3 linked regions of the Homo sapiens genome follow. The protein of the gene in region 1 purifies or fractionates together with the protein of each later gene. This does not show direct contact. Each region holds a gene or a part of one and is shown on either strand. Other genes may lie near its edges.

What was found.
Region 2: the proteins of FBXO11 (region 1) and GAPVD1 purify together in Homo sapiens (co-immunoprecipitation; 2 studies listed by BioGRID and IntAct, with this or other methods). This does not show direct contact.
Region 3: the proteins of FBXO11 (region 1) and KIF2C purify together in Homo sapiens (co-immunoprecipitation; 2 studies listed by BioGRID and IntAct, with this or other methods). This does not show direct contact.

Annotation. Positions count from the first base shown.
Region 1 is NC_000002.12:47,806,420-47,813,006, forward strand, and holds the end of FBXO11 (F-box only protein 11), read right to left. Parts: intron 4,008-6,587; coding exon 3,897-4,007; intron 3,683-3,896; exon of another isoform or gene 3,580-3,682; intron 3,289-3,579; coding exon 3,181-3,288; intron 2,848-3,180; coding exon 2,739-2,847; intron 2,168-2,738; exon of another isoform or gene 2,104-2,167; intron 2,009-2,103; coding exon 1,910-2,008; coding exon of another isoform or gene 1,829-1,909; coding exon 1,699-1,828; 3' UTR 501-1,698; downstream 1-500. Other genes in the region: DNA mismatch repair protein Msh6, read left to right, coding at 33-232, 360-441. UniProt on the Homo sapiens protein: Substrate recognition component of a SCF (SKP1-CUL1-F-box protein) E3 ubiquitin-protein ligase complex which mediates the ubiquitination and subsequent proteasomal degradation of target proteins, such as DTL/CDT2, BCL6, SNAI1 and PRDM1/BLIMP1.
Region 2 is NC_000009.12:125,264,160-125,272,217, forward strand, and holds part of GAPVD1 (GTPase-activating protein and VPS9 domain-containing protein 1), read left to right. Parts: intron 1-4,776; 5' UTR 4,777-4,825; intron 4,826-8,058. UniProt on the Homo sapiens protein: Acts both as a GTPase-activating protein (GAP) and a guanine nucleotide exchange factor (GEF), and participates in various processes such as endocytosis, insulin receptor internalization or LC2A4/GLUT4 trafficking.
Region 3 is NC_000001.11:44,756,171-44,764,228, reverse strand, and holds part of KIF2C (kinesin-like protein KIF2C), read right to left. Parts: coding exon 7,992-8,058; intron 6,674-7,991; coding exon 6,583-6,673; intron 6,322-6,582; coding exon 6,258-6,321; intron 6,181-6,257; coding exon 6,089-6,180; intron 5,024-6,088; coding exon 4,881-5,023; intron 3,950-4,880; coding exon 3,745-3,949; intron 3,638-3,744; coding exon 3,527-3,637; intron 2,314-3,526; coding exon 2,246-2,313; intron 2,195-2,245; exon of another isoform or gene 2,122-2,194; intron 1,884-2,121; coding exon 1,778-1,883; intron 1,685-1,777; coding exon 1,571-1,684; intron 1-1,570. UniProt on the Homo sapiens protein: In complex with KIF18B, constitutes the major microtubule plus-end depolymerizing activity in mitotic cells. Regulates the turnover of microtubules at the kinetochore and functions in chromosome segregation during mitosis.

The DNA of each region.
Region 1 (6,587 bases):
CACATGTATCGCTAATATTTTTCTTTCTTAAGGCATGCATGGTAGAAAATGAATGTGAAGACCCCAGCCAGGAGACTATTACGTTCCTCTATAAATTCATTAAGGGAGCTTGTCCTAAAAGCTATGGCTTTAATGCAGCAAGGCTTGCTAATCTCCCAGAGGAAGTTATTCAAAAGGGACATAGAAAAGCAAGAGAATTTGAGAAGATGAATCAGTCACTACGATTATTTCGGTAACTAACTAACTATAATGGAATTATAACTAACTGACCTTAAGTTTCAAAGAAACAGTAAAAGGGGAAGGGATGATGCACTATGAAAAAACAAAAAAACTTTTTTTTTTTTTTTTTTAATTTTAAGGGAAGTTTGCCTGGCTAGTGAAAGGTCAACTGTAGATGCTGAAGCTGTCCATAAATTGCTGACTTTGATTAAGGAATTATAGACTGACTACATTGGAAGCTTTGAGTTGACTTCTGACAAAGGTGGTAAATTCAGACAACATTATGATCTAATAAACTTTATTTTTTAAAAATGACCATTTTTCCATTTTCTTTCTAGGAAATTAAACCCTTTTAATTCTTATCTACCTTCTACATAATGGTTATTGAATACTCCACAATATATTAAGTCTAGATGTTATGGTACATGCATACACTTTCAGGCTGTTTTATACCCACTGTCACCAATACACATAAATGGGGGAGGAAAAGCTATGAAACTGTATAGGGCTGTATATATACTTGTCTCAGCTTAATGCAGGAAATTGGTTTAATTTCCAGCAGTTTTGTCTAAACTGTTCAAAAAAAAACTATGAACAGAGTTCAAATACAGGACTGTTTGTTTTGAAGAGACTTTCTAAAGTGTACTTAAAACATAGTAGTTTTTTACCTTTCACAAAACTGAGTTACAAGAATACTTTTGTTTTACAGTGCATCCCTTCCTAGGAAGTCTCATTAAAACACTCACTTTTTCTAGGGGTGATTTTGAATGCTGCACAGGGAAGGGAAGGAAATAATAGTCTTAACTTTTCTTAAAGGATACCAGAAACATTGCTGGATATAATTTAAGATTAGTGTTTTCTCTTTCATAGAAAGAACGTACATACTGGGACATGAGTACAGTTACAGCAAGTCTAGGTGTGCTAACAAAACAGGGCACATTCAAGTACAGTAAGATTTTGCTTGAAATTAAAAACAAACTACATGAGATTAAAGCATTAAAATCATATTTCTCAATCTGAATACATGTTAAAAAAAAAAAATCAAAAGGAACGCAGAAGTGCTAGCTCACATTTTTACCATATTACAAAAGCAATTGGTACCCATGTCCATAAAGGCAGCAACAAAGCTGCTTGTCTATTGAAGATTACTACTGCAAATTGGACTGCATTCAATGCTAGTTGTAAAAACACCAGCTTTTCAGAAGTTGGTATCTGTACAAAATTGCAGCTTATTTTCTTCACTTCTGTCCCTTCAAGTCTTTACACAGTAATGCTAAAACACCCAGCTTTGAGATCCTGAGTCAATATATTGCCACTTTCTTTTTGGTAGCTTGAGCTTCATAGTGTCAACTGACCTTGTGTATCCATTTTTAATACAGTCTCTTCCTGTAGCATGGGCAAATATTTTAAATCTTCTTCCAAAAAAGTGTTTTAAGTTATGATGTTACAATGGCAGGACTTTTTCTTTAGGGAAGGAATTCAGTTGTGCTGCAATGTATTAGATTCTATAGGTGGAGCAGAGTCATATAGTGTATCTGTATCATGTGTAGGCTCACCAGCTAATGTACAAGGATTAGACAGTGTTCCAGCACCACAGTCACAGAAAAACCTAAAGCAAAATGAAACCCAAATATTAGAAAAGTGAGGGGGAAAGTAATTGGGTAATATATCAAGCAAGTGTGCTACATACCTATCATGTCTAATAAACTCTACATCATGTCCCTGATGGCACTTCTTAATGCAGTTCACACATATGGCATTTCGATCTGTGGTGTTACAAGTATGACATCTAAAAAGCAAAAGCTTAAATTACTTTTCTCAAACATGTCATTAATGCAAAACATTCCATTCTGTTTATATATTACTATGACCTTTGGCTTTAAGAGGACCAAAACAAAATTCTTTGTGGCTCCAGCCCAGATTAATTCTGAAAAGGAACTTTAATGGAGTAAGTGATTTTCCTGTCATCTGTGTCTTCGGAGGGAAGAGAAATGATTTGTAAATTGTATAAAGGCAGTTCTTTCCACTTTAAAAGCCTCTCAAATGTTTCTGGGCTGAAAACAATTTTTGGAGGCGTGAAGAGTCAAAACTGTCACAGTGACTGGGATATATCAAACACTTAACCCCGACATCTTTACCTTGAAATTTCTAGGAAAACATTACACAACATGAGTTACATGAATGACATCAGTTACTGTAGCATTAGGTTTTTCCATAGTTATGGTCTTTGTTTTGTTTTGTAGAGACAGGGTCTCCCTATGTTGCCCAGGCTGGTTTAGAACTCCTGGGCTCCAGTGATCCTCCCACTTCAGCCTCCCAAAGTGCTAGGATTACAGGCATAAGCCACCACGCCTACCCACAGTTACAGTCTTAAACACGATCTTCAAGTAGATTGATGATAAAATTTTCAGTTAGTTATAGTCTCAACACCGGCAAATAGCCAAAAATGCTAGGCATTGCTAATTTAAAAAGGAAATCAGTCTTCCTCTTTTCAGGACTCAAATATATTTCTAAGTTACCTGTAGAAATCATGCATGGGATAGCTGGTATAACTTGATATTTTATATAAACATTGGCCTCTACTAACAGCCTTTTCTATGGCATCTTGATTGTTCATTATTTTGTTATCTGTAATAAAAGAAAGAATAAGTAAAAATTCAGAGGAATGTTAATATTTTAAAAACCAAAGATTATAGGATTATTCTAACAGAAGAGCCACTATTTTTAAGAGCTTTAAATGAAGCTAACCAATGAAGTAATTGTAAGAAATCAGCTAAGAATAGAATTTTCCTTGTATAAGATACTCCAACCATTTAGAACCAAAGCTCTGTTTCTTTCAAAATCTATCTTAAACTGTTGCTAACTTGGAGAGTGACATAAGGAATCAAGTTATAAAACGGCTTCTGATTATCTTTCATGGCATATTGCATATATTTATAGGTATAGCAGACTCCAACATACCTTTCATTGTCACATTAACACCAGATGCTAAAAATAAGCCTCCAAACCGGTTGTTAAAAATCTGATTGCCTTCTAGTGTTGCAGTTGCGTGATTTGTAATTTCAATACCTGAAGTAAAATTTACAAACAAGTAGATACATCACTTTATACTGCTTCTTAAAAACCTGAAATTAGCAAGCAAATGTAAACTGCTTCTTTTATAGAAGTACATTAACCCTCTTAATGTCTACTGAATAAAATGTAGATACCTATTTCAACCACCAACAGTAACATTCACTTATCAATGACTATGGTCAAAACTGCAATTAACTTTCGCACCAACCTAACTGTCTTAAAGTTTAAATACATGATACTTGGATTTCATTTGCATCCATTTTAACATCTCTTTTTCTGTTGCAGATTTAAACTGGTAAATTCATCTGAGGAATTGAATCTATCTGTATTCCTAGTGGTAATACAAGCCTGCATTTATTCTATCCCAATAAATGTTTCATAATCACGACTAAGCAATAAGAGCAATATTTCTTAGGAGTCTGGCTTAGAGTAGAAGAATCCAGAACTTGATTAGGTGCTCTTGTAAGTGAATGAACAGGCATTCAGCCACTTCAGCACACTTTGCACATTTTAGTTAATAAGCAAAACAAAATGAATATACTCCACATCAAACACTTTGCAGAACTATATATAAGCCACAGGTAAGAAAAGAAAATACAAACCTGCGGCAAATCCATCAAATATTCTGTTTTTCCTTAAGATTGGATGACTATTAGTGCTGATGAGAACACCTGCTTGAGCATTCCTGAAAATATCATTTTCTTCAAGGAGACCTATAATAAAATATTTCCTTAGATTAAGGCTAATGCATATAACAGACTACTAACCTTTTTGGTGGTATTTAGGTTTGCTTTTAGTTTCTTATTTAACTGCATGGTAAAATTCACAGGACTATTTTTTCAGCCAAAACAAGTTTATTAGCAATTCAGAGGTATTAAGGATCTAACAAAATTGCTACAATGACAGGTAAGAGCATTCTGACCAATAATCTGCCATCTCCATGATAGCAGGGTCCATGTCTAAGTTTACTCAGCACTTCATCTTCAGAGCCAGGTGCATAGGTGATTCTCAATGAGTATTGCTGAATTAAAGCTAATTCCTTTGAAATATTTCTAGAACCTTTGTATCCTCTTTGTTTTTAGTTCAGGCAAGCAAGCCCTTATTTCTGGCCCTTATTACTATAATCATTTCCTGATGAGTTTCCTTTATTCCAGTTTCATCTGCTGCATAGTTTCCAATCAGTTAACTGCAACTCTTATCATGCCTCTTTCTCTAACAAACTACTTTCAGAATAAAGTTTAATATCACCTTGCCTTTCAAAATATCCCTCCAACCTACTTGTTTGTCTTAATGTGAGACATGGTTTTATTTCTGTAGACATTTAATCCCTCTGGTATTTCACATTATTGACCTAAACTTTCACCTGGATGAGTGGGAAAAATCTGACTCAGTAACTTCTTGGGGTCCTCCTCCTGTTCACTCCCTGGGTATTAATATTTCTGGGTTCTGTCCCTCATTTCCCTCTGCATACTCTTTGGGTGATCTTACATCTTGCAACTATTGCATATACACTGTTGCTTTTTAATTTTTGAGACAGAGTCTCACTCTGCCACCCAGGCTGGAGTGCAATGGTGTGATCTTGGCTCACTGCAACCCCTGCCTCCGGGTTCAAGCAATTCTCCTGCTTCAGCCTCCCAAGCAGCTGGGATTACAAGCACCTGCCACCACACCTGGCTAATTTTTGTATTTTTAGGTTTCACCATGTTGGCCAGGCTGGTCTCAAACTCCTGACCTCAAATGATCCACCCACCTGGGCCTCCCCCAAAGTGCTGGGGTTACAGGCATGAGCCACTGCACCCGGCCACTGTTGCTAATTCTTTAATCTATTCCTTTAGCTTAGTATAATGAATCACATTCTGGTCATAACCAATTTGGATATTCCAGAAGACAACCTTGGATTCAGTGTTTAAAAACTGACCTTACTAATGTTTTCCAGAAACCATTTCCTATATAACTTACCTCAGTGAAAGGTAGTCACCCACCCAAATCAGAATCCTGAGCACCCATCATATTTCACTTTACTTTCAACCCCCATATTAAATCAATGACCCAGTCCTGTTGGTTCCACCCTTTTTATAGAGATACGGTCTTACTACATTGCCTAGGCTGGTTTCCAACTCCAGACTCAAGTGATACTCCTGCCTTAGCCTCCAGAGCAGCTGGAAGTACAGGTGTGAGCCACTGTGCCCAGTTGGTTCTGTCCTTTTAAGTATCATTAACATGTCCCACCCCCTGCCCCCCCAACCTTTTCACACCCTTATGCTATCATTTTAGTTTAGGCTCTCATTATTTATTGCCTGAGTTATTCCAAGTCCCTGTCTCTAATCTTGATTATTTCCACTACACCTCAAGTGCTATTGCTAAGATGGATTCCAAACTCCTTACTGCATATGGAAAACCTCATGATTTGGGCCTTGCCCCTTCTGTAGCCTCAATTTTCTGTACCTCTTCCCTTACTTTCAGTTTCCTCTAGACTTTTGTTTACGATGTGCTCCACTCCATCACACTATACATTTTATGGATGTGCTGTTTCATTTAGCATATCTCTAGCATCTGTATCATAGTAGTTGGTACAGAGGTGTTAAATCAGTATCTAAAGAATAAAAGTGAAATAACATCTGGAATGGTCTGTTCGCCTCTCCCAAACCCAATTGCCAGTAAATATCTACTCATTTTTCAAAACACGGCTCAAAAGTGATTTGACTTGCGTGAACCATTTCTCAACACCTTGCAAATAAACCATTCTGTATTGTGTGTCTTCACTATATTTTGTGAAAACTATCTGAGATACGTCACTTTACTGAATTACTAGATTATAAGCTCCTGGAGAGTCTGTCAATGGAATCATCACTGCTTGGCTGTGGTATTAAATTTTGTTCATTAAATCTTGGCATGTTAGAGTAATAACTAGCTATTCTATGTAAGATATGTACAAATGTTGGGTTATTGACATTTCAGGAACAGCGATAGATTTGCATTTGGCAGCTCTGTGAATCTCTGTATACATGCATCTGTAAGGGGCAGGCACTATGGAACTTTTGCCTCAATGCAAAGTGAGTTGACCTTTATGAATACCAAACCAGGCACATCTTGGCTTCATTAATTCCACTCTCCAACAAACACAGTTGAAAACAGTTACAAAAGCAATACCCGTTTACTAAAGACATTTTCAGATATTTACAGATCAATTTCTCACATCTATTTCTATAACTTGACTTTGAAGTTTATTATAATCATATTACTATTCTGAATTTTAAAAGGTCCAGAGAATGTAAACAAATTCTATCTTTAAA
Region 2 (8,058 bases), on another chromosome or scaffold:
GGAGATAAAAAATTTGGATGGGATCAGGGTAGTCTTTTGTTTTGTTTTGTTTTGAGACGGAGTCTGGCTCTGTTGCCTAGGCTGGAGTGCAGTGGCATGATCTCCGCTCACTGCGACCTCAGCTTCCTGGGTTCAAGCGATTCTTGTGCCTCAGCTTCCTGAGTAGCTGGGACTACAGACACCAGCCACCACGCCTGGATAATTTTTATATTTTTAGTAGAGGCAAGGTTTCACCATGTTGGTCAGGCTGGTCTCAAAGTCCTGACCTCAGGTGATCTGCCTGCCTCGGACTCCCAAAGTGCTGGGATTACTGATGTGAGCCACCGCGTCCTGCCCAGAGTAGTCATTTTGAAAGAATAGACCATAGATATTTCATTCAGGGTAATGGGGAATGAACAAAATAATCGGAAGAAGAAAGAAAAGTGAATATGTTGGCCTTTAAATTTTTGTATTAAGGCACCTCCCCACTTCCAAGGGATTGCAGCTCTGTAAGCTCTAATGTAAGCCTGAGAAAAGAAATTTTACTGTTTGCTGGTTTTCTTTAAATCATGGAGGTGGATTTTTTTTTTTTTTTTCTGAGATGGAGTCTCAGGCTGTCGCCCAGGCTGGAGTGCAGTGGCGCGATCTCAGCTCACTGCAAGCTCTGCCTACCGGGTTCATGCCATTCTCCTGCCTCAGCCTCCCAGGTAGCTGGGACTACAGGTGCTGCCACCATGCCTGGCTAATTTTTGTATTTTTAGTAGAAACGGGGTTTCACCATGTTGGTCAGGCTGGCCTCGAACCTCCTGACCTTAAGTGATCTGCCCGCCTTGGCCCCCCAGAGTGCTAGGATTATTGGCGTGAGCCACCGCGCCTGGCCATCTTACATTTTTTAAAAGACAAAAAATTATTTCCCAGCACTATGTTGTGCTTTTGTGAGCATTTGGTTTCATATGGGGACTAATCATTCTTAGTACATGCTGCCATATAGGTTTGATTATTCATCATTTTGTATGAGGTAATAAAAGGGAAAGTCTGTAAGTGAAGTTCTTGTTTTGCTGAGGTTCTTTTACCTTTTACTGTGTGATCCTAGGTTGTTTTATTTCTCTTCATTCTTCTTCCTTCTTTCTTCTTCCTTCTTTTTTTTTGAAACAAGGTCTTGCTGCATTGCCCAGGCTGGACTTGAACTCCTGGACTTGAGTGATCCTCCTGCCTCAGCCTTACCAAGTAGCTAGGACTATAGGTCGGCACCACCACACCTGGCATTGTTTCTTTTTCTGTTCTTCTTTCTGAGAGGGAGTCTTACTTGTCTCCCAGGCTGGAGTGCAGTGGTGTAATCTTGGCTCACTGAAACCTCTGCCTCCCGGGTTCCAGCGATTCTCCTGCCTCAGTCTCCCTCCTGGGCTGGGACTACAGGCGGGTGCCACGATGGCTGGCTAATTTTTGTATTTTTTTGTAGAGACGGGGTTTCACCATATTGGCCAGGCTGGTCTTGAACTCCTGACCTCGTGATCTGCCCACCTCGGCCTCCCATAGTGCTGGGATTACAAGTGTGAGCCACCGCGCCCGGCCAAAAAAAAAATTTCATGTCTGACGATATCAAATGTTGGTGAAGATGTGGCAAAAATGGTAATTTTGAAACTACTGGCCAGGCGTGGTAGCTCATGCCTATAATTTTAGCACTTTTGGAGTTTGAGGGCCACTTGAGTCCTTGAACCCGGGAGTTCAAGACCAGCCTGGGCCTCAAAGTGAGACCCCTGTCTCTATTAAAAAAGAAAAAATTTATAAAAAAAAAAAAAAAAAGAAACTGCTACCGGTTACTGTTAGGAGGAGGAAAAAAAAACTGTTGGTTGAGTGTAAACTGGTATAGCTGCTTTTGAAGACAGTATTTGCAGCCCTTAGTAAAGTTGAAGATAGGCGTACTCTATAATTTCACGTCTATAAGGGATTATGAATGGGAGGTAGTGGCAAAGGGGATGATATCTATAATTTTTTTTTTTTTTTTGAGGTGGAGTTTTGCTCTTGTTGCCCAGGCTGGAGTGCAAATGCGCGATCTCGGCTCACTGCAATCTCCGTCTCCCGGGTTCCAGCATTTCTCCTGCCTCAGCTTCCCGAGCAGCTGGGATTATAGGCATGCACCACTATGCCCGGCTAATTTTTATTTTATTTTATTTTATTTTATTTTTTTTTTTTTAGACGGAGTCTCGCTCTGTCGCCCAGGCTGGAGTGCAGTGGCGTGATCTTGGCTCACTGCAAGCTCTGCCTCCCGAGTTCACGCCATTCTCCTGCCTCAGCCTCCCAAGTAGCTGGGACTACAGGCGCCCGCCACCATGCCCAGCTAATTTTTTGTATTTTCAGTAGAGACGGGGTTTCACCATGTTATCCAGGATGGTCTTGATCTCCTGACCTTGTGATCCACCTGCCTCGGCCTCCCAAAGTGCTGGGATTACAGGCGTGAGCCACCGCGCGCAGCCCGTTATCTATAATTTCTTTTGAGGATATCTATACTTTTTTTTTGAGACTAGACACTACTGTGACAACAGCTAATTCTGGGAGGCAGAATATACGTGCTAAATTATTATTTGTATCTTTCCCTATTTTCTGCTGTTCGTTTTGTTTTTTTCTTTTTGTTTGTTTTTTGAGACAGAGTCTTGCTCTGTGGTCCAGGCTGGAGTGCAGTGGCGCCATCTCAAGTCACTGCAACTTCCCCCTCCTGGGTTCAAGAGATTCTCCTGCCTCAGCCTCCTGAGTAACTGGTACTATGGGCACGTGCCACCACACCTGGCTAATTTTTTGTATTTTTAGTGGAGATGGGGTTTCACCATGTTGGCAAGCCTGGTCTTGAACTCCTGTGATCCGCCTGCCTCGGCCTCCCCAAAGGGCTGGGATTACAGGCATGAGCCACTGTACCCGGCAGGCTTTGTTTTTTTGTAATCCATAACTTCTAAATATTGTTTTTGCAACTCTTTGAAAAATTGTAAGCCTACAGAAGGGTTGTTCAGTAAACATTCATATACCCTTCACCTAGATTTGCTGTTAACATTTTGCCATGTTTACTTTACACATAGAAGATGCACATTTTACTTTGGGAATCCGAGACGGTCAGATTACTTGAGCCTAGGAATTTGAATTTTGAGGCAAGGTCTTGCTCTGTTGTCTAGGTTGGAGTTCAGTTGCGCTATCAGGGATCATTGCAGTCTCGACCTCCTGGGCTCAAGCTGTCCTCCCACTTCAGTCTCCTGAGTAGGTTGGGATGTGCTACCACACCCGGTTAATTAATTTTAGTTTTTTATTTTTTGAGATGGAGTTTCACTCTTGTTGCCCAGGCTGGAGTACAATGGCACAATCTCAGCTCATCGCAGTTTCTGCCTTCTGATTCTCCTGCCTCAGCCTCGCGAGTAGCTGGGATTACAGGCATGTGCCACCATGCCCAGCTAATTTTGTATTTTTAGTAGAGACGGGGTTTCACCATGTTGATCAGGCTGGTCTTGAACTCCTGACCTCAGGTGAACTGCCCGCTTCGGCCTCCCAAAGTGCTGGGATTACAGGGGTGAGCTACCATGCCTGACCAATTAAAAAAAGAATTTTTTTTTTATTGGGAAGACAGGATCTCCCTATGTTCCTCAGGCTGGTCTCAAACTCCTGGGCTCAAGCAATCCTCCCACCTTGACCTCCCAAAGCTTTGGGATTACAGGCGTGAGCCACTATGCCTAGCTGCTAGAATTTAAAATAAACTTTATTCGGCCAGGCACAGTGGCTCACACCTGTGATCCCTGCATTTTGGGAGACCGAGGCGGGTGGATCACCTGAGGTCAGGAGTTTGAGACCAGCCTGGCCGACATGATGAAATCCCATCTCTACTAAAAATACAAAAAATTAGCTGGGCGTGGTGGCTCGCGCCTGTAATCCCAGCTACTCAGGAGGCTGAGGCAGGAGAATCGCTTGAACCCAGGAGGCTGGGGTTGTAGTGAGCCGAGATCACGCCACTGCACTCCAGCTTGAGCAACAAGAACAAAACTCTGTCTCAAAAAAAAACAACAACAAACAAACAAACAACCCCCCCCCCCAAAAAAAAACCAAGAACTTTATTCTACTGGTGCTTTCTTAGCCACCGTCACAATGTTGTCACTTCTCACTTTACGCAGCTGGCTCCACTGAGGGTTTGTGAGCTGGTCTCCAGTGATGGCACATAGTTCTTATTACCTTACATGGTAACACTACCTGATCATGGCGTTCTGGAAATTGTGACAATATGTACTGATCTTTTGTTGGTGCAACTAACAATACAAAAGTTGCTGCTCTGTAAATGTATGCTTCAGTTTCATTAGTTTATTTGGAATAATTACCCCTAACATTGTTTTTTTTTTTTTTTTTTTTTCGAGACAAGGTCTTGGTCTGTCATGCAGGCTGGAGTGCAGTAACGCTATCACAGCTCACTGCAGCCTCCACCTCCCTGTCTCAAGAGATTCCCCTGCCTCAGCCTTCTGAGTAGCTGGGACCACAGGCACATGACACCATGCTTGGCTAACTTGTATTTTGTATTTTATTTTTGTTTGACCAGACGAGTTTTAAATACAAGTTTTGTAGTTTTTGTAGAGGTGCCCACACTGGTCTCAAACTCCTGAGTTCAAGTAGTTCATCTGCCTCGGCCTCCCAAAGTACTGGGATTACAGGCATGAACCACTGCGCCCAGCTACTTGTAATGTTTGTAGGTAGTTTAATAGCGAAAGTAGGTACATTCCAGTGATAAGACATTCAGTTTATTATTTTTTCCTTTTTCCTTTTTTTTTTCTTTAGGGGTAAGTGTACTGGAGAGAGTTGGTTATACATTCTAGGAATCTCAAAGGTAAAGTATGATTTAAAAATATTTTTTTAAAATAATTTTTTTAAGTTTGCCTACAGCTACAAATTTTTAAGTTTTATGTAAGTGGAATCCTTTTTTTTTGAGACATATTCTCACTCTGTCATCAGAGTGCAGTGGTGCCATCATAGCTCACTGAAGCCTCAAACTCCTGGCCTGAACAGGGCGATCCTCCTGCCTCAGCCTCCTGAGTAGCTGGGAATACAGGAGCATGCTACTTTGCCCAGCTGAGTCCTTCTTATTTGCTTTGGACAGACTAGTACTTGAAAAAATAATTTTCAAATGTTTAGTTGAGTGTTTTTTTTTCCTTCAACTTTTGGGAGGCTGTTTTTTTGTCATACATATTTCCTTCTCTGGAGTTAATTTTCTGTTAAGCAAGAAGGATTTCAGTTATGTATTTTTTACACTTGAACTACCTAAACTTGTGCTTGCATAGAATTATTTTCAACTTTAACTCCTTAAGTAATCGTTTTCAGGATATTTTAGTTTTTGTTCTTGTTTTTTTTTTGAGTTGGAGTCTCGTTCTGTCGCCCAGGCTGGAGTGCAGCCTCCCGAGTAGCTGGGATTACAGGTGCTACCATGCCCTGCTCATTTTTTATATTTTTAGTAGAGACAAGGTTTCACCATGTTGGCTAGGCTGGTCTTGAACTCGTGACCTCTGGTGATCCACCCGCTGTGCTGGGATTACAGGCATGAGCTACCATGCCTGGCTTTTTTTTTTTTTTTTTTTTTTTTGGAGGCAGAGTCTCACTCTGTTGCCCAGGCTGGAGTACAGTGGCATGATCTCTGCTTACTGCAACCTCTGCCTTCCAGGTTCAAGTGATTCTCCTGCCTCAGCCTCCCTGGTAGCTGGGATTACAGGTGGCTGCCACCATGTCCAGCTAATTTTTTTTATTTTTAGTAGAGACGGGGTTTTACCATGTTGGCCAGGCTGGTCTTGAACTCCTACTCTCAAGTGATCTGCCCGCCTTGGCCTCTGGAAGTGCTGGGATAGGTGCAAGCCACCATGCTTGGGCAGATGTTTTAATTTGTAAAGGAACTAGGACCAATAATTTTTTTTACTGTATACACATTTTAGAATAAGTTTTAGGCACCTAGCTGTTTGATTTCTGGTAACTAAGATTATAGTCAGTTAAACTTTACTGCTGGCCAGGCATGGTGGCTCATGCCTGTAATCCTAGCACTTTGGGAGGCCGAGGTGGGCGAATCACTTGAGGTCAGGAGTTTGAGTCCAGCCTGGCCAACATGGAGAAACCCCGTCTCTACTAAAAATACAAAAATTAGCTGGGTGTGGTGGCGCACACCTGTAGTCCCAGCTACTTGGGAGGCTGAGGCAGGAGAATTGCTTGAACCTGGGAGGCAGAGTTTGCAGTGAGCTGAGATTGTGCCCCTGCACTCCAGCCTGGGTGACAGAGCTAGAGTCTGTCTCAAAAAAACAAAAACAAAAGAATCTTTCCTTCTTTATGCTTACCTATATTTTCTAACTTTTCTGGATATGTTTCAATATGTATTATGATTTTGTAAAAAATTTCAGAAGGGTGGTTATTTTTTGTTTCAAAGCTGAAACCCAGTTTAAAACTCTAATACAGTGGTCAGAGGAAGTGGTGAATATCTTGATACTTCAGTTTCTAATATTTAATATATATATAAGTGAATGGTTGAGGCCGGGCGCAGTGGCTCACGCCTGTAATCCCAGCACTTTGGGAGGCTGAGGCGGGTGGATCACCTGAGGTCAGGAGTTTGAGACCAGCGTGACCAACATGGAGAAACCCCGTTTCTGGTAAAAGTACAAAATTAGCCAGGTGTAGTGGCACATGCCTGTAATCCCAGCTACTCAGGAGGCTGAGGCAGGAGAATCGCTTGAACCTGGGAGTGGGAGGCAGAGGTTGCGATGAGCCGAGATCGTGCCATTGCACTCCAGCCTGGGCAACAAGAGCGAAACTCCATCTCAAAAAATAAAAAAGAATGGTTGAGTGAAGGACTTAACAGACTACATAGGGGTTTCTATAAATTTTTTTTTTTGAGTTTGAAGATGAACCAGATACCTGATAAATGCTTGTGTCTGAAAGAAAAGTATAAAAGTATAATTTAATTCTAATACTCTTTGTGTGTGTGTGTGGCCAAAATTATGTTTTTGTATACCTTTTTTTGTAAGCCATTTAAAAAATACAGGCTTTAAACATACTCTTGGAAGTGTATAAACAGATACTGTGTCTGCTTGTTAATCTAAGATGTCTGTCCGAAAAGGTGCTTGCTTGGTCTTGCTCCCTTATAATGCCGGTACACCCACGCTGGAGACTAGTAGAAAGCATGTTGTCAGACGTGTTTAGTTCTTTTTTTTTTCCTTACCAACTTATGTGTTGTTATTTATTTTCTGTGAATCTTTGGAAGGATTAAACCCACGTGGTTTTTCTATCAGAAAAAAGACAAAACAAAATTAGTCAAGGCATATTAGTCTTTTTCCTTTTTCCTAGGATCAGAGTGTAGTAATATCCTGCCAATCTTAATTTTAACAAATACTTATATTTTTCGGACTTAGATTAACTTATTTTTTTATTTTTTATTTTTTGAGACAGACTCTTGCTCTCTTGCCCAGGCTGGAGTCCAGTGACCTGATCTTGGCTCACTGCAACCTCTGCCTCCCGGGTTCAAGCGATTCTCCTGCCTCAGCCTCCCGAGTAGCTGGGATTACAGGCACCCACCACCACACCTGGCTAATTTTTGTATTTTTAGTAGAGACGTTGTTTCACCGTGTTAGCCGTGCTAGTCTTGAACTCCTGACCTCAAGTGATCCACCTGCCTCGAGTGCTGGGCTTACCCACCGCACCTGGCCCTCCTTTCACTTTCTAATGCAGAATTCTAATCTATCCCTTTGTTTTACTTGTGTTATTTATATTTACTTACTTCCATTATCTTGGCTACTTTACAAAAATGCATTAGGTCTAAAAGTTATAACATTTAAGGCTGAATTGCCAAATGTTTAAAAATATAGATTTCTGTACCAGAAAAACTTTGGAAAAACTACATTAATTCTTTTTTTTTGAGATGGAGTTTCACTCTGTCTCCCAGGCTGAAGTGCAGTGGCATGATCTCGGCTCACTTCAACCTCTGCTGCCTGAGTTCAAGCGATTCTCCTGCCTCAGCCACCTGAGTAGCTGGGATTACAGGCGCCTGCCACCCTGCCTGGCTAATTTCTGTATTTTTAATAGAGAAGGGGT
Region 3 (8,058 bases), on another chromosome or scaffold:
ACTCCAGCCTGGGTGACGAGTGAGACTCTGTCTCAAAAACATATATATATAGAGAGAGAGTACATATTTTGGGGGGTACCTTGTAAGATTTTCATGCTTGTATATCTAAATGGTTCATGAATCTCATGTCCTCATTCCAATCCCATGAACACGGACACAGTTTGGTCTAGGCACTAGTTTCTCTTTTTTTTTTTCTGAGATGGAGTCTTGCTCTGTCACCCAGGCTAGAGTGCAGTGGCACGATCTTGACTCACTACAACCTTTGCCTCCCTGGTTCAAGTAATTCTCCTGCCTCAGCCTCCCAAGTAGCTGAGATTACAGGCGCCCGCCACCATACTCGGCTAATTTTTTGTATTTAGTAGACATGGGGTTTCGCCACGTTGGCCAGGCTGGTCTCGAACTCCTGACCTCATGATCCACCCGCCTCGGCCTCCCAACGTGTTGGGATTACAGGCATGAGCCACCGCGCCTGGCTGGCAATAGTTTTTCTTGAACCCTTTCCAACAATCTCCTAACTGCCTCTACCTTTGCTTTTCTCAAGCCCCCAAACCAGGCTCCACATGGTGGCCATATGATATATCTAAAGCTCTGACATGCCCATGTCACCACTCTGCTTAACACCCTCCAAAGGCTTCCTCATGATGCAGTCCAGGCCTGTGAGATGAACCATCTAGAAGACTCTAGCATCAGATCCCTGTTGACCTGTCCACAGCCTTAACTACCCTCCATCACCTGTTCACTCCTTTTGCTCTGACCACGGTGAGCCTCTCATTCATCCTGAAAGTGCCATGTGCTTACAAAACTCTGTACCCCTGAGCACTCCAGGAAGGGGAGGAGAGGCCTGAGCACTTACCCTTCACAGTCCCTCCTCAGTTACACCTGCCCCAAGTTCTTCCTTCCTGCTCTGCAATCCTCTGAGCGCCCCACCATTGGGACGTAAATTCCTGCCTCCCAGTCACTTGCTCTTCCACAGTAGGGATTACAGTAGCAGGGGCACCTACCAGTTACTGAACCCTGACCACACACTGGGTACTGTGCTGACACTTTATAAGCATATTACTGAACGCTCAAATACAACCATCCTACCTTGACCATTTCAGAGATGCAAAAACTGAGGCCCAGTGAGGCTAAATGAATTTCACAAGGAAATCAGTTTGTGAATGGAAGAGACAGGATTGATCTCAAGTCATACCCTTAGGGCCTATTACCTATACTTCATGTTTTTTGGCCCTTGGATTCAGCACAAGAGTTGCAACATTCACCAAAACACAAGACAAGATCCCTGCATATGGATCACCCTTCAAATCCTCTATCAGGAGCGTGGAGGAGAGACTAGCTCTGGCTAGTGTGATGTCAGAAAGCCTATGTGTGCCAACCTGCAGAAGGGGTTGTGATAATTAGAAGAACAGCTGGGTTAACAGGCAAAGAATTAAAGAGTGCTGGTGTAGAGGGCTGCTTCTTGCTATGTGAATACCTGTGGGAACAAGGCCCAGGTCATGTTCTGGGAATGGTGTGGAGCATACTGAGGGCCGTGCTGCATCCAGCTCCCTGTCCAGGGCCAGCTGCCTACCTGTATGATCTCCTTGAGCTCTTCCATAGCCTTCTCCTCCAGCTCCCTGATCTGAGTCATGGCTTCGTTAAAGCTGGACATCTGGGAAGACAGTTCCTCCTCTTCCTTGGATAACTGAGAGGGCCAAAAAGAAAGACAATTATGTGACCCAGGTGCCGCCTCAGCAGGCCACACTTCTGTCTTGCTTGGCCGCATCCTGGTCCTTACATTGCCTGGAATCAGCGCCCCGTTAGAGCAGGCTTCCATCTCTTCTGTTTCCATTTGAATCAACTGCTCTCCACTGGGCCCACTGTGGGGGCTCAGCTCCTTGACCCTGAGGAAACAAGGAGGTCTCAGATCCCACAGCACCCCCTTGGTACTCACCAGAGGAATGTGGCACCGCCCAGGCTTCGAGGCTTGAGGCTCCAAGGGGATGGAATGGCAACCTTGCCTTCAGCCAAGGAGAGAGAAAACTAAAGCTGGACTGGAAAAGCCCCTCACCCAGCTGACTCTCCAGCAGGGCCCGGAGAGGATTGGGACAGACCTAGCATCACGGCGGAACTCCCAAGCCTCAGGTTCAGAGTCACAGAGGAGTATACAGTAGGCCCTGAGGCCCCAGAGCCTCCTCCCCTCTCATCACTGCCCTTCCCTTGCCCAGTCCTGTTCCGCATCCCACCTAGCTGTAGGTACTAGTACCTGTCTGCATATCTCAGGGTGTTTAAAGTATATTCACAGGAGCTTATGCCTGGTGAGATCGTGGCAATCTGCAAAAGAGGGGTGGGTGATTAAAGGCTGAGAGGCACGGTGAGGATGCTATATAGCCTGTCCCTGAGGGGCCTCCAGTCAGGGTGTTTCTTCAAGCTTTGGAGACCCACATGGTATTGGTGGGAGGAGTCATTTAGCACCGCGCTGTGCTAGGCCACTTGCCCCATGGGCACTGCAAATTAAGGTGCCTCAGACATTGGTTTCCTGCTTTCAAAGACACATCTAATTATCTTTTGCTTCATTATTCCTTCACTGAGACAGTCTTGCTACCAAGGTCCTATCTTTTTCTTTTTTCTTTTTTTTTTTTGAGACGGAGTCTCACTCTGTCGCCCAGACCAGAGTGCAGTGGTGCGATCTCAGCTCACTGCAAGCTCTGCCTCCCAGGTTCACGCCATTCTCCTGCCTTAGCCTCCCGAGTAGCTGGGACTACAGGCACCTGCCACCACACCTGGCTAATTTTTTTTATTTTTTAATAGAGATGGGGTTTCACCATGTTAGCCAGGATGGTCTCTATCTCCTGACCTTGTGATCCACCTGCCTCTCGGCCTCCCAAAGTGCTGGGATTACAGGCGTGAGCCACCGCGCCCAGCCCAAGGTCCTATCTTAAAGCTCTGTGGCTTCTGCTGGAAACTTCAGTTCCCTTAGGCCAAAGGATAATGCCTTAGGTAGAGCTTAGTCAGAAAATCCCACCTTCCTCATGAAAGGACTCCTACCCAAAGGGTAGGGGAGAATATTCTCTTGAGGGGAAGGATGGCAGATCTCACATACAGGGGCTTGGGGATAAAACAGGAAAGAGGACGTCATTCAAGGACACAGCCTTATGATCCAGGCTATTTCTATTTTCTAGGCTGGGAGCCAGTGAACCTGAGGGAGGCCATGGAAAAGACAAGGACTTCCCTCTCCTGCTGACCCAAAGGCCCATCTTCCGAATTCTGGAACCCCCTTTTCATCAGGTAATGCAGGAATGACCTCTCCCAAACCAAGAGCTGCACCTACACATCTTAAAGGGAATAGATCCTTTCCTCCACGCTTGGTTAGGCCACAAGGAGTCTCGTGCATTAAAGCAGGGTCTGGAAGCCCAGTCACGGTACAGCCTGGAAACCCAGGCAGCCAGCAGTGCTGAGCTTCCAGCCCAGGGACAGGACTAAGTGTCTCTGTGGAAAGCAACTCTGTCTCCTCCTGTACCATCACCTTCAAAGTGACCCTACTCACCATGCAAGTCCTAGAGTTCTCCCCAATGAAGGAGTCCCTCAGCACCTGTGTCAGCTTGCTCTCACGGAACGGGGTGTGAGCCTTGTTCTGTCCCAGGGCCCTGATGCACTCCTGTGGGGGCAGCAGGAACAACTGAGGTCCCTTCTTTCCTTGCACTGATCCCTCCCCATCCCTTCCCAGTAGCTCTCCCGGCCAACCAGCTCTAGCTGCCCCACTACCTTCAGGGCTAAGAGACTCTTGTTGATTTCTGCGCCCTCCATGCGGGTCTGCCGGTCAGCACTGGAAGTGTCCGCGCCTCGCTCATTCCCTGCCAGATCTACCAAAGAGAACTTGCCATGCATTCTCCCTTTAGCTCGAAGAATAATTTGGAAGCACGCGTGGGAGCGGGAGGAATTGGAGTTGGCAAATGTCTGCCCAGAGGTTCTGTGGTAAAGAAAGGTTATGAGATTCTGTGGTCACCAGCCCCCATGGCACCCAAGTCCACAGAAGTTCTCTAGGAAGGGAGGGACACAGGTTAGGAGGCGAAAAAGTCCTGTTTTCCTGTCCCAGGCTTCCATCTTGCCCTCCCTGGGTAGCAATTCTCCCTCCAGCTCTGGACCTAATACATTTTCCTGGCAGCCAAATTAGTACTGGATTCTGGACTAGGGCCTTTGTCAGACCTGGAGCCCTAGAAGGACACGGGGAAGGATAAATTCCCTCTGCTAAAGGGCCCAAAGGGAAGGGGGAAGCTGTCATGAACCACCTGCCAGAACTTGAGGACCCTGTAGAGGGCAGCCCCCTCCCTGGGCCTCTATAGCTGCGTAGCGCCCCACTGTACCAATGTCTACAGCCCTAGTGGAAAAGTGCTCCCCTAATTCTGTGCAGAGGGGGTATGAACCCATTACTTCCAGCCCAGAACAGACCCAGAGCTCCCGACTTCCACCACAAAGGGAGGGAAGAGCAAGGAGAACCCAAAGAAGCCAGGAAGCATGCCTTTGGGGTAACACTTTGACTTGTTTTTATTTTTATTTTTTTGAGACAGGATCTTGCTCTGCCCATGCAGACTGGAGTGCAGTGGTGCGATCACAGCTCACTGCAACCTCTAACTCCTGGCCTGAAGTGATCCTCCTGCTTCATTTTCCCAAACTGCTGAGATTATAGGTGTGAGCCACTGTGCCTGACCTGACTTGGTTCTGATAAGCCTCTGGCCCTGGGGTCATATGTCTTATTGAGACCCCGTAAAGCAGAGGCCTTCGCAGCCCTTACCAAACTGGGCAAAGCAGCACTCTGGGTAAACAGAAATGTGCTCAGAGCTAGACTTTACTCATAAACCAGACATGAGAAGGTCGCTCCTTCCCCTCACCAGGACTCTCACCTGCAGGCGCTGCCCATGTCGATCATCTTGATGACATCATCAGCAGAGTTAACCAGATGCTCCTGCAGCCCCACCACTTGCACCTGTTGCTTGCCGTCCTCCAGCACGCGCAGCTTGGCCTTCTTGTTGAGCAGGTCAAACAGCTGTGCCAGGCAGGGGGAATGAGGCTAAGGCCACTGGGCACCCGGCACCCCACCCGACTGCTTCCTCCTACTAGCCTGCCCAGCTCGGACAAGAGCCAGCAGCAGGAAAGGCAGAGAATACGAACTGATGGATGTCAGCCTAGCAGAGGTCAATATACTTGGGATCTGAGCCGAACTGCCTCAGTTTGCTGTGACTCTGGTAACTTACTAGCTGTGTGAGCCTGGGCAAGTTAATAACCACTCTAGCCTTGCATCTCATCTGTAAAGGTGAGACAGGTAGTGCTTAGAATAGTGCATAGCTCCTAATATCTTATTATTATTATTATTTTGAGACGGAGTTTCGCTCGTATCGCCCAGGCTGGAGTGCAATGGTGCGATCACGGCTCACTGCAACCTCTGCCTCCTGGATTCAAGCGATTCTCCTGCCTCAGACTCCCGAGTAGCTGGGATTACAGGTGCCCCTAACCATGCCCAGCTAATTTTTTGTGTTTTTAGTAGAGATGGGGTTTCACCATGTTAGCCAGGCTGGTCTCAAACTCCTGACCTCAGGTGACCTGCCCGCCTCGGCCTCCCAAAGTGCTGGGATTACAGGTGTGAGCCATCACGCCTGGCCCCTAATATCTTATTAATGATAAATATTAGCTATTTTTATTATCTAGATCCCACTCTAAGGAAAGCAACTCTGCAGAAGCACACAGTGAATAGAGAGAGGGGTGGAAGAGATATATGGTGGTGCGGGCAGGGAAAGAATGAATATGAGACTGAACGTGCACAATCGGGGAAGAAGGGATGAAGGAGGTCGGCCGAGGGAGGTCAGGACACACACAGGCAAACCTTGCACCTGAAAGGGCGCCCTGAGGAGTATTCTTGCCATACTTCTTGAACTTAGGTGCCATCTCACCATCAGATTAAACCACCTACATGTGTATGCCAGGGCAGAATGGCCCATCAGTGGCTTGACAGCTAATCAGCTAATAGGTTTTTGGCCTCAACTTCTAGCCAGCTTCAAGGTTTTAAAAAGTGCTGGGCCCCAACAGTGTAAACAAGGGGCTTCCTGCCAGCTACCTTCCCATTGTAGATCTCGAAGAATGTCACATAGACTTCCAGGCCCAACTTCCGGTAGCAGGGTTGATTCTTCAGGAGGAAGACGTCCCGGGCTGAGGGAGAGAACTTTGCTAAGCAAACAACCTGCCTTTCTGTGCCCAACCCTGAAGCAGCAGTACACAGTACTTACAGGCCATGGCATAGATCCCTTTGGATGCATTCTGGGCTTTCCCAGAGAGGTCTCCGCCCATAGTCTGCAAAGGGAAGGGGTAGAAGACCATGGAAAAGGGCTGTTGGCCTAGAGCAGAGCACTACTGGCTCCTTCACTACAGTGGGCCACAACAAAGCCAGAAGGCTGGACCTAAAGCCCCTCCCTGCATCTGACATGGCAAGGCTATCTGGTGATGGGGCATCTGTAACAAGGGGCCTTTCTCAACAAACTCATTGTCTCCCTTTATAGGGAGCCAGGGGTGCACAAGGGAAAGGCTCTTTCCCCGCCAGGCCTCAATACTCACATGTGTCTTGCCACTTCCTGTCTGGCCATATGCAAAACAAGTTGCTTTTCCACCTTCAAAGATTGTCTGTACCAGTGGCCTTGCTGTGAACCTAGAAGAGGGGTAGAGTATTTGTATCTGTTCCCAAACTGTGCTCCCTGGAACATGTCCTGCCACCCTTCCACTGCAGAGTTCTAGGGTCGATTCCTCCTTCTAAGAATAGCACTCCTCTCCTGCCTCAGTGGTCCCACCTGACCCCAACCCCACTTTACAAATCTGAAATACTCCTAGCAAACTGGCAGTGGGATGGGTGTTGGGGGATCACTGGGCCGACTAACCAGAAGCAAGCTGATGGCCCATACTCTAAGCCATCTGACCTTTCCTCTGACCCTGGAGACACAGCATAAAAGCCTAAGCTCAGCATCCAGCTTCCAGCAGAAGAGACACTACTGGCTGGGCACAGTGGCTCACGCCTGTAATCCCAGCACTTTGGGAGGCCGAAGTGTGTGGATCACCTGAACTCAGGAGTTTGAGACCAGCCTGACCAACATGGTGAAACTGTCTCTAATAAAAATACAAAAAATTAGCCAGGTGTGGTGGCACGTGCCCGTAATCCCAGCTACTTGAGAGGCTGGGGCAGGAGAATTGCTTGAACCTGGGAGGCGGGGGTTGCAGTGAGCTGAGATCTCGCCACTGCACTCCAGCCTGGGCAACTGACTGAGACTCTGTCTCAAAAAACAAATAAATAAATAAAAATAAAATAAGTAAATATCCCTATGAGGGTACTGGGTGCTGTATTAGAAAGAGCAGATCTGGGGCCAGGTGCAGTGGCTCACACCTTTAATCCCAGCACTTTGGGAGGCCAAGGCGAGCGGATCACCTGAGGTCAGGAGTTTGAGACCAGCCTGACCAACAGGGCGAAACCCTGTTTCTACTAAAAATACAAAATTAGCCAGGTGTGATGGCAGGCGCCTGTAATCCCAGCTATGTGGGAGGCTGAGGCAAGAGAATCGCTGGAACCTGGGAGGCGGAGGTTGCAGTGAGCCGAGATTGTGCCCCTGCATTCCAGTCTGGGCAACAAGAGCAAAACTCCGTCTCAAAAAAAAAAAAAAAAAAAAAAAAAGCAGATAGAGCAGATCTGGAGTTCCCCAAATCTGTGAACCCCAGTGGGCAATGGTGTGGCTGCATAAGGCACAGAAGAACCCCTGGAGCCTGGCCAGCCCTGCCTCAGCACGTAACGGGTGATACCTCATTCAGTATCCACTCAAGGATGGGCCACTAAGCTGCCAAAGGGTGTGACCCAAAGAAAACACAAGAAGCGAGGAAGAGCCTCAGAATTCAGCACGTCTGTGAGTAGTGTTACCACGATGTCCCACAAAAAAAGGGGATGGAAGGGCACAAGGAGGGAAAAATGGATGCAAGGGACTAACCTGTAGACAACTTCATTCGAAGCTGTTTCATCAAATGCAAAGTCAAAGCAGAATGCTTGGTTCTCCA